Linked DNA regions of Homo sapiens. The protein of the gene in region 2 purifies or fractionates together with the protein of the main gene of each other region. This does not show direct contact. Each region holds a gene or a part of one and is shown on either strand. Other genes may lie near its edges.

What was found. Proteins that work in one complex are often made in the same cells at the same time.
Region 1: the proteins of NAAA (region 2) and BMP7 purify together in Homo sapiens (affinity purification with mass spectrometry; 3 studies listed by BioGRID and IntAct, with this or other methods). This does not show direct contact.

What each region holds. Positions count from the first base shown.
Region 1 is NC_000020.11:57,169,018-57,172,769, forward strand, and holds part of BMP7 (bone morphogenetic protein 7 preproprotein), read right to left. Parts: intron 2,092-3,752; coding exon 1,942-2,091; 3' UTR 1-1,941. UniProt on the Homo sapiens protein: Growth factor of the TGF-beta superfamily that plays important role in various biological processes, including embryogenesis, hematopoiesis, neurogenesis and skeletal morphogenesis.
Region 2 is NC_000004.12:75,927,355-75,931,106, forward strand, and holds part of NAAA (N-acylethanolamine-hydrolyzing acid amidase isoform 1 precursor), read right to left. Parts: intron 1-3,752.

The DNA of each region.
Region 1 (3,752 bases), on a different chromosome or scaffold from region 2:
TTTAAATGTACAAATGATGCTAACCAGAGGCTGGTTGGGTCAGAAAACTCACACCAAGAGGGATCACACAAAAAGCCCCAGCTCTGCCAGCAAATGAAACCAAACATAACAAAAAATACTCCTCCCCAGTGACTAGAGAGTGGAGGCTGCAGCCCAAGCTACTAAAGAAGAAAAACATCAAAGAAAATAAAAACAGAGCCCCGGTGTTTCCAGGAACTGTCTGAGTCAAGATGGAGAAACAGTCCCCCACAAGACCGGGTTCCACATGGCCACAGTTTTCGATCACCTTGTTTTCTTTACAGATGCAGAAAACGTTTGCAGACAGTCTAGCCCTCCCCTAGGCCTTGTGTTTGTGGCCGGAGGCTGAGTGCATACTATTTATGGGACTCACCAGCCAAGGCAAGGCAGGCTTACACCAAGAGCCACGTCAGAAATGCCACCTCCAAATCGGGACACTTGGTTAGGATGTCACCCTCAACAAGGCTTCTATTTGCAATGTAAGTCCAGCACATCCTGCACCCATCAGACCTCCTATTATGCCATCTCCCCCTTAATTCAAGGAGCAAATTTGTTTGCAGAGACTTCTGATCAGGGTCTGCAAATGAAGAGACAGCCACGGGTGCCCTTGCCAGGGCCCAGCCTTGGAATGCCACTGCAGACAAAGACCAGAGGGTCCACTGGGGCGATGTGCAGTGCTCCTGCTCACCCCACTCCCGTGGAGAACTAGGCTTCATTGGTGCTGTTTTTTTTTTCTTTTGAGATGGAGTCTTGTTTTGTCACCCAAGCTGGAGTGCAGTGGGACGATCTTGGCTCACTGCAACCTCCACCTCTGGGGTTCAAGCAATTCTCCTGCCTCAGCCTCCAGAGTAGCTGGGATTACAGGTGCGTGCCACCATGCCCGGCTAATTTTTGTATTTTTAGTAGAGATGGGGTTTCACCATGTTGGCCAGGCTGGTCTCGAACTCCTGACCTCAAATGATCCGCCCACCTCAGCCTCCCAAAGTGCTGGGATTACAGGTGGGAGCTACTGTGCCCGGCCCATTGGTGCTTCTTAACAACAGGGTTGAGTTGCAAGTTCCATCCTACTTGCTGTCCTTGTCCCCTCTGCAATTTCACATGGATTTACTACCACTGGGGCGAGGTGAAAAGCCAATCCCAAATGTCTGCGGGTATTTCACACACCTAGTTTCATTTCTGCCACGGCAAATCCAGCTGAACAACAGAACATATTTTTCCTCCAAAGATCAACACACCGCCCTCCTCGGAGCAGACATTTGCTCTTTCCCCTCCCACTAGATCTTGGATTTGGGCAAACCTCGGTAAACACTGGGCCTCTGCAAGCCTCAGGATGAAAACTGTAGGGAATGGAGAGGGACCTCCCCGCCCTCCACTTGACACAGCTTCTGTTTACGCATCAGGATAAACCGAGAAATGGGGATAAATTGTTTAGGAAAATATATCTGTAACGTCCTAACCATTTTCATTCATTCGTTTTATTGTGACATTTATTACAGGAACTTCCGGGTCAATTTTCCTTTCGCACAGACACCAATGTGCCCACCCCTTGCCACGCCCCCTTCCTCCCACGGCTGGGTGGCCTGGCTGGTAGGCGCTCATAATTACCTCTGGAAACGAGTCCGTGCATGGCTGAGACTTCCCAGCCAATGACCTGGCCCGGCCATTTTTCTTTATGCGTTGTTTTTTTTTCCTGCTAGGTTTTGCCTGCACAGCTTGTAGGATCTTGTTCATTGGATGCTGCCACTGAAAAACTGATCAAAAGCCATATGCTGCTCATGTTTCCTAATACTCTCACACCTTTAAAGTTGGGGATAGGGAGGGGAAGGTCTCACAAAAGGCAGTTGGTCTGCTGGTTCCTGGCCAAGGCGAGCAATGGAGGATCCAGAAAAACTTGGCCCCAAAGGGTCTGAATTCTCGGAGGAGCTAGTGGCAGCCACAGGCCCGGACCACCATGTTTCTGTATTTCTTCAGGATGACGTTGGAGCTGTCATCGAAGTAGAGGACGGAGATGGCATTGAGCTGCGTGGGCGCACAGCAGGGCTTGGGCACCGTTTCCGGGTTGATGAAGTGGACCTGAAACACACACCAAAACATGGGCAGTGGTGAGAAGCGGTGAGTCGTTCTAACTGGCCTCCACGTTTCTATAAAGAAACATCCTGTCTGGGCATAATGAATGACTGCAGGTGACACTCCCCAAGCCAAGCACTCCCTGTTCTAAGCACTTTACATGGACAACTCAGTTCTGGGATTATCCCTGTTTTGCAGACAAGGGAACCAAAGCATAGAGGTTTTCACATTATACAGTGGGGAAGGAAGGGGCCAGATCCGACATTCAGGACCAGGTAATTCTCTGTTGGGGAACTGCCCTGTGCACTGTAGATTGCTGAATAGTGTCCCTGACTTGGACCCACTAGAAGTGCTCCATCTTGCTCATGGACTTCTCTGCACCTTACAGAGGATGTGGGACAGGGACACATAGACTCAAATGCCTATGAGTGCCACGTGAGTGCCACTGATAAGCAAAATAGACCGAGGTAAGACAATAGGGAATAGTGGGGACTAAGGCAAACTAAGGGAAGAGGCCGCCACTCAACCTAAGCTGACGGCAGCCAACCAAGATCAGTGTTAGCAGATCTGCCACGTGTTCAAGACAGGCCAGAGATTCCACTGTCCTGTTGTTTTCAACGTGAAACTTCTGGGTTTCCAGCAACTGTAGGTGCCAGGCAAGAGCATCAGTGACTGGCACTCTGTTCACAGCCTCCAGGCTGTGACTGCTGACATAGGCCAGCATGCTTTTTACACATTTTATGATGGACAATTTCAAACTCTTACACATCCATACCCTTCCCCACCTGCTCCACCTTGAATGATTTTAAAGCAAATTCCAGCCATCAGCTCATTTCCTCTGGAAGCATTTCATCAGGACTCTCTAGAAGACAGTTGCCCCCTTTTAAACATGACCACAATCGCATCATTTCACAATCCCTGGAGAATTCACTTTGATCCTGCAGATCTCTGGTGAAATACTGATGGAAGTAGGTGCACACAGGGCGATGGCACTCCTGTTCCATGGGCCATGAAGGCAGGGGTTGGAGAAGGATAGAGATGTGTCCCCTGGCAGCCGGGGAGACATGCCTGGCACCTTCCAGGGGATACTGGCACAGCACAGCACATCCAGGCCAGGGAACAGGTTGGGGAGGACTCTTCTGTTTCCAGCCTAAGGACCTTCAATCCCAAGTAGGGCTTTGAAGTTTACAATTGAGGAGGGGAGCAAGGGCTTTGGAAAACCAACACTTAAAAAAACAAACAAAGAAACAAAAACCCCTGCCCTCAAAGAGCAGAATCAAATGAAAGGGATAGATGAGATTTTTCTCCAGGACTTAACACACAGGACAGGGACAAGAAAAGAAGGAGGCAGATTACTAAATGAAAGGAGGGAGTAGTCCTGGTAGTGAGCTCTCTGTCACTAGAAGCATTCAAGGCAGGGTGGATGATCAGTAGGCAGGAAAGGCTCAGATGATGTTCATGACAGGGAGCTACATAACCAAGGTCCTTGAACCTTGGATTCTAAGCAAAAGAACAAAATCCCTACAGCTCTTATCACTATGGTTGCTGTTGGCAGAGCAGGAATAACACCTACTGAGTGTCGCCACGTGCTGGGCACGTTAATCTCATTATCACATGGAATCTTCCTGGTGACCCCACTGAAATTTAACTTGAAATGGCCCCATGGG
Region 2 (3,752 bases):
GGATAACTTGAGCCTAGGAGATTGAGGCTGCAGTGAGCCAAGATCCCGCCACTGTACTCCAGCCTGGGCAATAGAGTAAGACTCTGTCTTAAGAAAACAGAAAGAAGAGAAAAAGAAAAAAAACAGGCCTTGTGCAGTGGCTCACTCCTGTAATCCCAGCACTTTGGGAAGAAGCCGAGGCAGGAGGACTGCGTGAGCTCAGGAGTTTGAGACCAGCCTGGGTAATATAGTGAGACCTTGTTTCTACTAAAAAAAAAAATTAAAAAAAAATTTTTAATGCCCCCCCCCCCCCCGCCAAAAAAAATAGCTAGAATTTGAATGTTTCTAGTGTAAAGAAAAGACAAATATTTAAGGTAACATATCACAATTAGATTGTGCACACATGATCGTGCATTTATGAATGTGTGATTTGAGACAGAAAGACTCTGTCTCAAAACAAACAAAAAAAAATGGGCAAAGGACTTGAATAGATATTTCTCCAAAGAAGATATACAAATGGGCAGTAAGCACATGAAAAGATACTCCATATCATTAATCATTAAGAGAAATAAAAATGTGATTTGCATTTCTCTGATGTGATTATATGAATGTAACACATCACATGTGCTCCCAAAATATGCACATGTAATGTGTATCAATAACAAAATTAATTTTTAAAAACCCACTCTAGCAATTTTGAAATACATAATACATGATTGTTAACTGTACTCACCTTGCTGTGTGGATCACCAGACCTTATTCCTCCTGTCTAATTGAAACTTTGTACCCTTTGACCATTTCCCTTTTTCCTCAGTGCATAGCAACCACCATTCTACTCTCTGCTTCTATGAGTTCAAACTTGGAGATTCCACATATAAGTGAAATCATGCAATATCTGTCACAGTAGGTTTTAAGCAGGGGAACAACCTGACCATTCTAGTTGCTGGGTAGGGAAGGAATTATAAGAAAGTAAAAATAGTAGCAAGGAGATCAGGTGGACTAATCAGGCAGTACAGGTGTGATGGGGGCTAGCTCAGCAGTGGAGGTAGAATGGACAGGTACAGTCTAGTTCTGCTGTCAGAGCTGATAAGACTTAGGGAGTGAGGGGTCAGTGATGATTTCTGGTAGCAATTGGTTGGGTAGAGGTGCCATTTTCTGAGACATGGGAAACGAGGAGAGGGACAGATTTGAGTAGAGGCAGAGTTGGGTAGAAAATAGGGAAAAGAAAAAAGCAAGAGATCTGCTTAGGCAAGTGTAAGATGCCTAGTAGACGTCAGAGTGGAGATGCTGAGAAGATGGCTGGATGCTCCAGTCTAGGACTCAGAGGAGGCCAGGCCTGGAGATGCAACAACAACAAAAACACTTCTGTGGCCCTTGCTCTGTGCCAGGGACTGCTGTATTTCATATTCGTTAATTCATTTCATCCTCATAGCAGCTATTATCATCCCTGCTTTTTTTTTTTCTTTTTTTTTGAGATGGAGTCTCGCTCTGTCGCCCATGCTGGAGTGCAGTGGCGCGATCTCGGCTCACTGCAAGCTCCACCTCCCGGGTTCACACCATTCTCCTGCCTCAGCCTCACGCCTAGCTGGGACTACAGGCACCCGCCACCACGCCCGGCTAAATTTGTGTTTTTTTTTTTTAGTAGAGACGGGGTTTCACTGTGTTAGCCAGGATGGTCTCAATCTCCTGACCTCGTGATCCACCCGCCTCGGCCTCCCAAAGTGCTGGGATTACAGGCATGATCCACCGCGCCCGGCCCATCCCTGCTTTCGAGATGAGGAAACTGAAGCACCGACAGGTTAAACTCCTTGATCGTGGTCACCCAGCTACAGCAATAAGATTTAAACCCAGGCAGACTGGCCCTGGAGTCTTCAGGTGTTACCCACCAGGTGTTTTGTTAAGCCTCCCCATGCCCTGTGGCATTCATTAGTCCTCCTCATATCTTTATCCTTTCCTAGGGTGGCTTTGAGGCATTGCTGGCACCCCCCATAATGTCCAGAGACTTAATATCACAGCTCATTGCAGCCTGTAACTCCTGGGCCCAAGCCATCCTCCCATTTCAGCCTCCCACGTAGCTGGGACTACAGGCAGGTGCCACCATGCCTGGCTAAAAGCAGTTTGACAGTATTTCATTAAATGCATATGTTGTAGACTAACTTGGTTATTTTTAACTGCTCATACCTTAGATTCTACTAATCAAGTTTGGTAAACAACTTGAGTTGCAAAATGAAAGCCAGTCATTTTTAATAAATATACATGTAATTATAGGCATTCTATTAAAAACCTTAGTAATTGTCATGCTGTGGTTTGGGTACCACAGGTTGAGAACCAGTACTATACATAGCTGACATATGAGAAAATGTGGAAGAAATACATTAGGATAAAGAACTGCTTACTGTGGACACTGATATATACTCAATCACCATCTTCCTGGTAAAGCCTTATGTAAAAAGATAAGAATAAACAATAACACTGGCCGGGCATGGTGGTTCACGCCTGTAATCCCAGCACTTTGGGAGGCCGAGGTGGGTGGATCACCTGAGGTTCGGAGTTCGAGACCAGCCTGGCCAACATGGTGAAAACCCATCTCTACCAAAAATACAAAAATTAGCCGGGTGTGGTGGCACCTCCTGTAATCCCAGCTACTCAGGAAGCTGAGGCATGAGAATCGGCTGAGCCCGGGAGGCAGAGGTTGCAGTAAGCTGAGATCGCCCACTGCACTCTAGCCTGGGCAACAGGGCGAGACTGTCTCAAAAAAACAAAAACAAACAAACAAAACAAAACAAAAACCCCAAAAAAACAACACCATGAAGTCAATCAGGGTTCATCAGACGAGCAACACTAAACTTCAAGATACTCCTTGTATATATCCTTCTCCTTGATTCAGCTGCACGCTGAGGACAGACACAGAGCTCACTTATTTCTAGATTTCCCACATACTGTGGAACTAAATGGTGTTCCCCTGAGATCTGGGGAATGGCAGTGGGGATGTCAATGAACAGAGCAATTGGGTCAGGACCCAGGAGAGCAATCTGAGAACTTCCTCTCCCACTACTAGCTGTCATTTCATCTCACAGCCTATTTCTTTCTCTGCCTAACGAATGGAGTTAAAAATAACAGCCCTGCCTAACAGGACTGTTGTGAGGGTCTAAGAAGAAGACATGTGAGGATGTACATGGTAAACCAGAAAGTGCTTTACAAATGTGGCTTGTATAACAGCATCATATATCCCCTAGATTATCACAGTAGTTTCCAAATGGTCTTCTGCTTCCATCTTAACCTAAAACAACCCAATCTCTACAGAGCAGCAAAAGTAATAGTTAAAAATATAAATCACATCTGTTCACTCCCTGGCCTACAATCCCCCTACAGCTTCCATTATGCTTAAAAACCAAACTCTTCATTGTGGCCCTGCACCATGGCCTCAGCCTCTTCTTCACTTCTAATGTCACTACCCACTTACTCCCATGCCATAACCACACTGACTTTCTTTGGCTTCTGAAATCCACCAAGCTTATTATTACTACCTACGGCCTTCATCCTTGCGGTAAGACCACCAGAAATGGTCTTCCCCTGGCTTCTGCAGAACTAGCTCCCGGATCACATGGGTCAGGCCTTCTCTGACCCTCTGACCTGTACTAACCACCCCACCTCCTCCTTCACTCTCTATCACAGCTTCCTATTTTGCTTTCTTTGCAGCACTTATTGCTACCTGAAATCTTCATTGCTTCCATGCATACTGTCCACTTTCTCCCCCTAGGATGGAAGTCCCT